Linked DNA regions of Homo sapiens: region 2 is linked to region 1. The links come from fine-mapping of genetic effects on gene expression. Tissue or cell type: whole blood. Region 1 holds a variant in brackets; the other region holds the start of a gene. All regions are shown on one strand. Distances are from middle to middle.

The links. PIP is the estimated chance that this variant, and not a neighbour inherited with it, causes the effect.
Region 2: it holds the start of LINC02273, and the variant in region 1 is fine-mapped to the expression of LINC02273 in whole blood (INTERVAL, PIP above 0.99).

The regions. Positions count from the first base shown.
Region 1 is chr4:152,165,032-152,170,888 of GRCh38, forward strand. No RefSeq gene overlaps it. Among named protein-coding and RNA genes, the nearest start is that of LINC02273, 67 kb to the left of the region's middle. The variant T/C (reference allele first, on the strand shown) is at 2,389.
Region 2 is chr4:152,098,178-152,104,034 of GRCh38, forward strand. LINC02273 (long intergenic non-protein coding RNA 2273) reads left to right here and starts at 2,576. Exons shown (of 3, transcript NR_121628.1): 1 at 2,576-2,640; 2 at 3,307-3,403; 3 at 5,450-5,857. RefSeq lists enhancers at 2,233-2,733, 2,340-2,634, 2,734-3,234, 3,529-4,728.

The DNA.
Region 1 (5,857 bases):
ATCCAAATAATAAATATTTATTTATTTAAATAAATCTGTATTTAAATAATGATTTAATAATGGGGCTATGACGAAATGATCCCCAGACCACACTTTGAGATACATGGCTTTAATTTTTCTTTGTCATTAAAACCTTCCCATGGAAGAACTAAAGTTGGCTCAGACTTCAGGAACTGCATGCTTTTAAACAAGCTTTCAGTCTGACAAGAGTTTTAGCCACCACCACCACCAGCCCCCAGATTCAGAGCATTATCCTGCAGATGGTGTCTTATTCTCACAGTGGCATCCTGCTAAATTCCACAGTGACTGGATAATCATCTCAGGTGGTCACACTGGGAGAAGCAACAGGAACTGACGTAAGGAACCAAACTTTGTTTTCATGCGAATGGTTTCCATGGAAAATTAAACAAGCAATAAAGACATACAAAAAGGTATTGTGCATATCAGTAACCAGAAAAAGTCTCTTATGGGATAGCTCATCTAAATTTGAAAGTACTATCAGCTTTGGAAGGTCTTGAGCTCAAATATTAGAGGGGTCAGCCTAAGGAGCTGGGAAGCCCAGCAAAGGTTAAGATTTCAGGGCAAATATCAAATCTTGCACTGAGAAATCCCTGTGTCGAGCTGTGCCAAAACCAGATGTTTTTACTAGTAATTAGTATTATGATAATTCACTTAACTAGGAATAAAATAGGGCATGATTGTTTACTGCTGCCTGTTTCCCCAGACATGCAGAGAAATGAGAAGAAAAATCTCAGAGGTTTTACTCTTGGCTAAACAGAATGATTTTCTCAATTAACCAGGAACGAACATAGCAACAAAATAATTTGCCCTTACATTATACAAGAGTTGTAAATAGACTTTTAAACACCTCCTTACATGTGGAAGTCAAGGTGGAAGATTGACTGCCAAGGAATTGAAAACATCTTGAGTTTGGTTTCCATCTGAAAAGACACAGTCCTTAGAAACCTACTCACGTTGTCAGCCATGGCATGAGACTTCCAAAAGCTATTCTTGGTTTCTCTTCTCTGTGCTGAACCCTTTCCAAGGCCAAGAAATTGTGGGATGAATTGTGGTAAGATGAAAGATTCTTCTGAGAGCTTAGGAGAAAAGTGTACAGGAGAGCAGAGAACACATATCTGAGAGGAGGCCGACAGCACGGCTGGGCTTTTACATGAATCCTTAATATAAACTAAGAATCGATGGTGGGCAATGAACAGTGATCATGGCAGAGCACACCCCAGCAAGGGAGTTACTCTATTGTGACTGTGTCAGGCTGATGAATCCTGGGGGAACAGGGCGGGGAGTGGTGGGGCACAGGGGCATGTGGCACCCTCACACACACACCCCAGAAGAGAAACTATTTGTAACTGTCAAATTTACAAGAAGCCAGCCAGACGTTCTACAACATAAACCACTTCGTAGAGCATAAGGTACAGCCACATTTCTTCAATAGCAGGACAGAAACTGCATTTTGTCCCCTTAAAGATAATTTTTAAAAAGAGAAACTATGAGCACTTTTGCCCAAATAAAATCTCTTTTAATCCTTATAAATAAAAATACTCTTTCCCATCGGTAGCTGTATCTCTTTGACACCCTCCTGCATTCTCTGCTACCACTGCCTTTTCCTTTACCTCACTCAGGATTTCTCCAAGAGGCTGAACAGGAGACATTAGTGTCTCTGGGTTATGAGATGTGACTATGTCGTAACATGCGATGACGTTTGTGTTCAGGACCAAGGACAGTAGCCCACGTGCGGGCTTAGCCCCTGCTCCCAGCCCCCTTTCTTTGCCCACTCCCTAACATTTTAGCCACATCACATCTATGAGCAGAGGAGTGTGGACCATATTGTTCAAATTAGAAACCAAAATAGGGCTTAATTACCATATAAGAAGCAGTGCTTTTTCCACCAATGTCTACTTTTTACCACTCAATAAATACACGTTGAGGAATGGGACCAGTAAAACTCAGTGTTTCTTCACTACTTCCTTGGGTAAGTCTCCCCAGCGGCCTTAGACCTGAAGATGGCAATTGCAGACTTGGGAAAACAGGTGGCTGAGTACCCTTGTCCGAGCCCTACAGCCACAATAAAACTTACAAGCTCTCCTTGGTTCTCCCATGGCTGGGCTGGCTCTGCACCACCTTAGTGTGTCTCTGAGATCATCATGGCCTTTGAAAGAAGCTCAGTCTAGGCATAAGAACCAGACAAACAACGCTTCTGTCCAATTCTGGGCCTACCAGTGTCTTGAAGCTAGAGATTCAACTCTCAAGAAGCCATAAGTAGTAGAAAACTTGCTTCTTTTTGCACCTTCTGGATTAAGGTCAGAGCACACACATCTCCTAGAATAATGTGCTTTTGCAAGATAGAACATAAGGTACAGAGTATATAAA[T/C]ACCTCACAATTCTGTTAAATACCTTTATTTATAGAAATGAAAGTTAGGAACCAGGATTAATTGCTGCAAATGAAGGAAGTAGAAACTAATTAAAAATGAACATTTTAGCATGCTATCAAAGGGCTAGGGCTCCTTTTGAAGGTGTCCTTTGCAAACAGAAAGAGGTTACAGCATGGAGAGATTATGTATTCTTTTCCTGATTTTCTCTGTCTCTCTCTGTCTCTCTCGCATAGACACACACACTCACACACACTCAACCATATACCTCAGTATATTTAGAATACTGACGTCAAAGAGAAAGATAAAGGGATAGCAGGTCCTAGCTAACCCCAGATTCTTACGTGAATTGTCTCCATTTTTAAAGTGAAATGAAAGATGGAGAAGTTCAAGTAAGTCTAAAACCTGCATCAAACCTAACAAGGCATCCAGGTGCCAAAGGTCACGTTCTACGTCTTGACAGGGTGAGACAAAGCCAAACAGCAAGTAGTCATTGCACAGTAGCATTGCTCATTTGGAGACACTAAAGGGAGGAAGAGGCACTAACAGCAGTCCAGCAACCTGGTCCAGGGTCTTCCCCCACTGGCTGAGTATAGACTTCCACCTGAACCTGCCCAGGGTTACCATTTGCTTCTTGGACAACATCACAGTGAAGAGCTCTGCAATCCTGGCATCATATTCTTTCAACCAACAGTCACAGAGCTTTTATTATACACCAGGACATCTGCACAGCACCCAGGTTACAGCAATAAATCAGAACGCAGCTACATAGGAAAGGAGTCAGACAGGAGCAACGGCATGCCACTATCTTTTTATTTTTTTAATACAGAAAACATAAACTTGAATAGCAAAACTAAAAACATTTTTTACAAACAAAACTCATATCATGGCCGGGCATGGTGGCTCACGCCTGTAATCCCAGCACTTTGGGAGGCTGAGGCAGGCAGATCACCTGAGGTCAGGAGTTCGAGACCAGCCTGGCCAACATGGTGAAACCCTGTCTCTACTAAAAATACAAAAATTATCCAGGAGTGGTAGCACATACCTGTAATCCCAGCTACTTGGGAGGCTGAGGCAGGAGAAATGCTGGAACCTGGGAGGCGGAAGTTGCAGTGAGCTGAGATTGTGCCATTGCACTCCAGCCTGGGCAACAGAGCAAGACTCTGACTCAAAAAACAAACAAACAAAAAAAAAAACCTCATATCGTGTGGTGATGTTAATTATTGAAAGTAAAATGTGACCCATTTTTTTTTGCCGTTGAAAAATTGTCCTCTGTGACACCTAGATGCTCTGAAATAGTTTATGCTTTCGGGCTGGGGAACATTGGTCTTCATCATACTCCTAAACAGAAAACAACTCTCCCATTTTTCTTATCCCCTCCCTGCAAATGGTTCACAAACCCCAAAGCTCTCTCTTGGACTTTGGTTTTCCTCCCTGAAAAGATTACCCTCCAGCGAAACAAGACACTGCACAGGCCACTTGGGGGGAACTTGTCAGTTCTTTGCTTTTCCCAAGACTTATTAATTTGGGCAGGACCTTAGGAAAAGGAAGAAGGGAGTGGGGCCAAGAATTAATCTACTCTGAGCTGTGATGGGTAGAAAGGGGACCTAGCACTTGTTCGTTTAAACTCCTGCTATTTTCACCTCTCAGGGGCTCTGCCTACTCTTGCCAAGTTAATCATGCTAAACAGAGTTGGATTTCTAGCAATACAATGCTCGCATCTAGGGTATCTTTCTGCAAGGTAAGCAATCTTGCCATTGATTCCCCCAGGCACTTGGTGCATACTGTTAGCTGGATTTCAATATCGTTGTGAAACTCTGTGTCTTTTGGAAATGCTTGTGTAGGTATCCCTGCTTAATGGATGTTGGTTACTCTCACAGAGGAAACCAACTTTCTCCCCTAGGATTTGTGGGGAGTAATTTCCCTCAAGCTATTATTACCTTAGGAACCGGTCTCCCAGGGATGAGCTGAATCAAAGCCCAGTCATACCTACTTTCCCTTCCAAAGGAAGATGCCCCCTTTAGGTTGCTGAGGCCTGATTCACATGTTTATTTACGGGGGAAGGCTCTGTTTTCTCTTGGAGAGGCAAAGCTAATTTCAGCCACCTGAGTGTTATAAACATACACACAAGATGTAAAGGTAAAAATGCAGGTCAGGAGGGGCCCTCACACCTCCTAACATAACCCACTGATGCTGCTAAAGGGAGAATCGCAGAGGAGCAGAGGTGGTCTTCCTCTCAGACACAGCCCCATTCTGACCATTCACAAAACTCATTGTCCCAGAGCTCCGGCACTCCCGTGTGCCTTCGCCTTTGCTCTCTGACCTCCAAGGCCCTCCCACTATCACCAGCAATCTCCCTTCCCGTGGAGACAGGGATAAATCTCCATCTTGGGAGAAATGATTTTCAGCCAGACCAGCTAAGCCCTCCAAGGCTCTCAGTTGGGTGGAAGCTCCTCCGGGTCCCAGAGGGGATTAGATAAGGATCTGGGGAGAAATTTAAATCCTGGATGGCAGCTGTAGGGGCTGAAATGAACCAGCCTATTACCCAGCACCTCTCTGACGGTGAGGGTTAATTTATCACATGGAATCCAATCACTTCTTATAAAACCAGTGCAGGTTTCATTTAGTTTGATGAGGTATATTGCAAGATTTCAGAAAATCAATTTTACTGAGAGCCATATTAAGCCCCAGGGAATATAACACTACATGTACCTCACATAAGTTTTTGTTATTACCCAGCGCATCACTGGGGAAATTATATACTTAGCCCAATGAAGGGTAATGACTACCTTCATTGTCTTGGGCAGCTCCCACCTTGCTTACCTCGGTGAAATAACAAATAAAAATGGTAGGGCTCCAAATTGGTACTTACCTACGCTCTGCAGAGTCAGAGGCATGATAAGAGTGAGCAAAAGCAACTTAATTTTCCAAACATTTGAACTGCTTACAGTATGGGATATGACTAGCCCATGCTATAAAATAGCAGGCATTATGGATACTTCCTATTTTGACCAAAGCCCTATTCTGACTGAGCCCCTTAGCTTGAGTTCTCAGAGCAGCATTTGCAAAGGAAGTCACAGTGGACACAAATTGCTTTCAATTGATCTGCCAGTATAATATTTCCAGAGAGTTATATTTCTTAGTAAGAAACTGTTCCACTGTGGCTAAGGAACATTCCTATCTGTGCTCATCTGGTCTCTTGGATACTTTTGTATGCAAAGCAATAAACCAGGCTCACTTTTATGGGGACCCCAACTTGAAGCTAGCATCAGGGAGTGAATCCCCAAGCCAACCTTGGCGATAGCTTCCTTCTCCGAAGGCCAGTTCAAATTGATAGCAGAGCATGTGGAGTGTGTGTGGTAGGTGGGAGAGTGGTATGGTGCACCAATCCTACTGCATCTCACAAATATCAGAGCTTCTCTTATTTATCTGTGGTCTAGGACTATGCTGTCCAATATGGCAGCAACTATC
Region 2 (5,857 bases), 67 kb before region 1:
CAAAATTTTGTTTTTTAGACAGGGTCCCACTCTGTTGCCCAGGCTGGAGTGCAGAGGCATAATCCTAGCACCCTGCAGCCTCTACCTCCTGGGCTTAAGTGATCCTCACACCTCAGCCTCCCAAGTACCTGGGACTACAGGTGCACCACCATGCCTGGCTGTTTTCTTTGTTTGTTTGTAGAGATGGGGTTTTGCTTTGTTTCTTAGGCTGCTCTCAAACTCCTGGCCTAAGCAACTCTCCCACCTCGGCCTCCAAAATGTTAGCATTACAGGCGTGAGCCACTGTGCCTGGCCTAAAAAATTTAATTAAAAAAAAAAAAGGTTGAGGCAGCTCTTGCCTAGATTACTAAGTCACTCAACCAGATAACTGCCAGGGCCAAGAATAGAGCCTGGGGCCTGTCTTGTACCCTGATGAGGACATTATGTACTAGTAATGGTTTTATTCTTTAGAATAATGATGAGAATGTTATAAAAACAATTTAGCCTTGGCAGAGATGAGGCATTATCTGCCTTTCTAGGAGGATGTTTGCTACTACAGGTGCTCCAGCACCTCTTATACTCAAGCCAGTGATGTGTGTTTCGGAGGTCCTCAGAGGCATCTCCTCACAAGCCTGGCTGTGTGGCCTCAGTGGTGCTGAGGAGGAGATGTGTCTTCTCTGGCTGGCCCCAGGCCTTAGATGCACTCCATCCAGCTCCGCCTCCTCTCGCCTCTGTGTCCTTCATGCATGTTCCTGCCTCCCGGGCCACTGCCAACATCAATCTGCTTAGGGACCCGAGACCAGTCTCCTCAGAGAGTGTGTAATGAGCCATCCAACAACCACTGTGGATGTGTCCAGACTGTCTCAAAGGCTGTTGGATATTTGCTGGGTCCGCTCTGGGTAACCTTGCCTTTGTGCTACCGAAGAGGAACAATGGCTGGATCATCCTGGAACCTCCTCCTGGAGAATGAGCAGCAGCATTTGTCCTGGCTGCCTTCTGGAGGAAGTGAAATCCAAGCTGCAGAGCCACTCTCACAGCTGGTGCTGGTTCAGTCTACCGCAGATGCGAAGTATCTAATGGACTGCCTCTTGTCTAGGGGCAGGTGAGAGCAGAACTCGTCTAACACACTTTGAGGACAGAGGGGCATCACCCGTCTGTGGGCATTCCCAGCCACATTTCCCTCCCTGGTTCAGGGGGAAGGTCTCCCTGCATTATCTAACTCCAACTCATCATGCTCAAAAGAAAAGTCAGGCGATCTAAAGCCCACAGATAGCCTTGCTCCCCTGTCTCTGTCAAAAACACATATGAAAGCAGAGAAAAATTCATCAGACACGGAAGCAATTGGAGAAGAGACCAGGAGAAAACAATTAGGTAATGAGGATGTGCATTAAACCATCTCTGGCACCTTCTTGACCCAGAAACATTCTTTATGTCCTGGTAATGATGGCACATTGAACATTCCAGGGAATTCCAATCCTGGAAATCAAGAAGGAGACTTACTCTAAAGGCATAGGCGAAAGTGAGTTGTCACCAGGGTGCACAGCTTCCTGGACATTCTACTGGAATAAAACTTGGCTCCCCAGGGGCCAGCAGGAGTCACCCAAGGGCAGGTCCCAAGCAGTCTCCCTTCCAGGCTCTGTAGTAAAAATGAACCACTCTTGATTCGAGGTTCAGAGTCTGAGGTCAATTTCCCCACCCCAGATCTCACTGGGGGCATTAGATCCCCTAGGGCCTTCTTCAGACCCCTAAGATTTATCACTGGCTTCAGAGAGATGAACCAATTCAATTAGCTTTTCCATTCTCCCAGCTTATTTTCCAGGAGCGGAGTGTGGCGCTCATTGTCGCAGTCGAACAAGCTAAAGAGCCTGCAAGGCCCAATACTGACTCCAGGAGATACTGGGAAGGGCTTGCTAGTGATGGAACCTGGCTATGAATCTTGCTTTCCTGATTCTAAAATTGACTCTGCCTGAAGGTGCTGCTGAGGTGCCCTGGGTACTTCTCCAGCGGTGGGTAGAGGAGTGACAGAGGGAGGAGTGCCCCTGACACACAAACAATTTCAGGAAGACAGTTTCCCTATTATCTATTATATAGATTGGGGGGTGCATTCATTTATTCATTCAATATTTATTGAACTTCCACGTATTCCAGGCACTGTCTAGGCGTCTGGGCCAGGATAGAGAGGGGAGTAAGATAGACCTTTCCTTGCTGTTACAGAACTTACGTCTTTGTTGGAGAGACAGGAAATAAACAAGTAAGTTAAAAACCCACAATTTGGGGTAGAGGCCCACAGGTCAGGTTCTGCAGGAAGTAGACTCTGACAAAGAGATTTGCAGGAGGTTTTTGGGGCGTGATCTCAGGAGCAACAAGTGTGAAGGGTGAGGGACGCAGGTCGGACAGATGGAAAAGTTGCTTTCTGTCTTCCTCCTGAGGAGCTTTGCAGCTTGGGACAACAAGCAGTGTTGTCCTAATTAAGATTGGAGGACTGGGCATTTGCACTCCCATGTGACCAGCCTTTGGATGCAAGCTGCCTCCAGGAAGTGGGTGTACATGTGGGTGGAGCAGCTTCCTCTGACAGAGGAAATGACACACCTCTGACACTTTGCAATGCTTGGAAAGTGTCTCAGGTGTGAGTTGGTGGAGCCTGCACTCCCAGCAGCTAAGGTGACAAGCGTTTTTCGGTTCTGCCAGGGGATCTGAGTGGCACACAACAACATCCACTATGAAATGTGGTGTGTGCTGGGTGGGGGCTGACTGAGGAGCTCGAGAGTAGGAGTGAGGCAGGCTATTTTAAAGAGGTGGCAAGGGAAGGCCTCTCTGAGCAAAGGCAGAGACTTTAGGCAAAGACTTGATTGGTGTGAGGAAGTGAGCCATTCAAAGTCAAGGGCACCAGAGGTTCTAAGCAGAGGAAACAGCAAATGCAAAGCAGAGAACAAGCTTGGCACATTTGAGAACCAACAATAAGTCCAGTGTGTCTGGAGCCACAGGAGTCAAGGAGACAGCAGCTGGCAGTTCAGCCAATGGGCTACCAGGAAACCAGATGGCAGAGAGCCTGGTAGACCACGGTAAGGAGTTTGCAGTTTAAGAGTGATGGGAGATGTTGGAGCACTTTGAACAGGGTGAAAGTCACCATCTGATCTACATTTTAAACGTATTATTTCACTAAATAGAGAAATAATACGTTTAAAATGGTAGTAATTGGTCATTGTTATATTGTCATTAACAAGTAGAGATTCTAAAGTCTAGACTTCTAAAAACAATTTTAAGTGAAGCAAATGTTGCTCCATCTGACAATTATGTAAGCCAGCCATACCTGTTCTTTCCCTGTAGGTAGAAGCATATGGGAAACTGCATTCCGATCCAGGGAAGTATAGGAAGCAGTAATAAAAGTGGGAAGACCTATTATAAGTTCGTTGCAGTCATCCAGGTAAGAGGGGATACTGGCTGAAAACAAGGTTTCAGCTATGTGGGCCCTAGCTTGGAAGGGATGGGATTCTACATATGTTTTGTAGCTGGAAGCAGGAGTTTGAGGCTAAGAGATGACCTGAGAATAGAATGATTTTAGGTGTTAGGCCTGAGAGATGAGGGCACATTAGGGAGGAGCATGTGCAGCGGGGGCAGGGCATCCAGAATGCTCTTTGGACATCTTATATTTTAAGTGCCTGTCAGACACCCAAGTAGAGACGCCTGATGTGAAGACATGAATATCTGCAGCTTGAGGTCCTTCGTAAGATCATTTGAAAATAAGAGTTGTGCTACTAAAATAAAATGTGCAAAAAAAAAAAAAAGAGAGAGAGAGAGAAGAAAAAAAGAAAATCGCTGCATCATGCTGTCTTGTGTATAGTTGAATTTTCACATGCTGTGGAAATTCAGCCAGAGATCCTGTGGAAAAATACTGAAAGGACCCTTGGATCACTGATTCTAAGTTTGAAAAAGGGCTGGGCTGGCTGCTTCTAAGCTTGGCTGTCTTGCTTCTATGGGGCAAGTTCGGGAATCTTTTTTTTTTTTTTTTTTTTGTAATTGAGGCAATTGACTTTGTCAGCAAGCTAAGAGTGGATTTCTCTCATAGGGGTGAATTCACATTGATCAATGTAACCAGGCTCCTAAGAGACTGATAAAGCAGAAACTGTTTACCTTGAAAAATATAGTCATCTCACAATTATGTAAGCCAGTCATGCCTGTTCGTTCCCTGTAGATCAAAGCATATGGGAAACTGCATTCCAATCCAGGGATTTCCCAGTGAGTTAGAATTAGACAAAGGGGTTGAACCGAATAGCTCAAACATGTTAAGTTATCAACATACTAAAATCCTGAGCTAATTGGTAAGGAGCCTGCTCCTGGAGCCTCCTGTCTGCTCCTACTCACTGCCCTTCTCATATCAGGGACCTCACAGAGCTCCCAGCCACTAGAAGGTAAATGCAGGTAGAATGGGGACCCTAGGTCCCTGCTCCAGCTGTAGCTGAAGATCTTGCTGTTTGGGTGGTGCCTGTGCTGTATGGATTGTTAAAGATGTTGACTTTCATCCCTGCTTTAGGGCACCCAGTCATGATAGCTGGATGCCCCTCACCTTCTCCATAACAGAGATGCAGCCAGGAGAGGCCCAGAGCCTACTAATGTGCGGACACCCATCACCCCAGCCTTGTCTCAGTCAGAGCTTGAATCATCCCGACGATCCTCCTCGGTCTCATTTCTCTCTGTGTCTGTGACGCTGCATCCATTCTGACAGGCCCTTCTGTCCCTCAGAATGTTCCTGCTGTCAGTCCAGGCTGCTCTGGTCTGAAATTCATCCTGTCCATATAAGGAGACTTTAAATAGATCTTCTTTGATCTGGTGCTGGCTGGTTTTATAATTTTTCTCTCAGATGGAAATTGTATTTCCCATTTCCAAGTTCTTGGGGGATGCCTCACAGTCAAGCCCCATAGACTGTCTACCCAGAGGAGTTTAATTTTCATGGAATCCAATAGGGCCAGTGAGGAAAGAGACCTTAATAATCATTTAATTCAACCCTCTTGTTTTATAGACAAGGTGACTGAGAACCAGAGAAGGAATGGCAGGTTGAATTATTATTTATAATGAATATAATATTTACAACTGGTACAGATCACAAAGAAGACATTAATAAACTGATCTATACCAGGAAGCTGTTCCCTGGTTTTTTATAGCACTCTAAGCCTGGTGACCTTCCTGAGCAAACAGAGTCCCTTGCCTCACTGAGGAGAACTCCAGGGAACACCAAAGGCCAAGGGAGACACCGCAGGCAATAAAACATCCCTAGCAAAGCATCTCAACACCCCCAGACAAAGAAAGGCACAGAACTCAAGAAAGCAGTGACAGGAGAGCTTTAGTAAATGTTTAATGAAGACGGAGCATAGAGGTCGTCCAATGCAGCCCCTCTTTTTCAAGCAAGGAAATGTTATGCGATAGATATCTGTCATTGTTTCAGCCTCCCAACATTCATTTCCTCTTTTGACAGCTGCTGATTTTCTCTCGAGGGCTCACCCCCCTGGACTCTGGGTGGTCCTGGGAGGATGTGAACCCTGTACCCTGACTCCCATCACTGAGGCCAAGAGTCTGGACCCCTCCTCCTCCTCCTGCCCCAGCACAGCAGGGAACCCGGCAGGACAGCTGTCCTCTAGGACTCTTGAGTTCACTCACTTCAGCCACCAAGCGCTGACTGTGTTTCCACCAAAGGGCAGTTCCTGCGGCTTCTACTCCCCCTCTCCAAGGTGCCAGGGTTACTGCCTGTCCTCCAGCCTTCCATGGCATCACTGTCTCTCCAGATCATCTCATTCAATTCTCTCATTGCTCCAGTGAGCCTGGATGGTTTTCTGTTGCCGACAACAAAAAACCCCAACTGATACCATTCCCCTTCCCCAAGGTC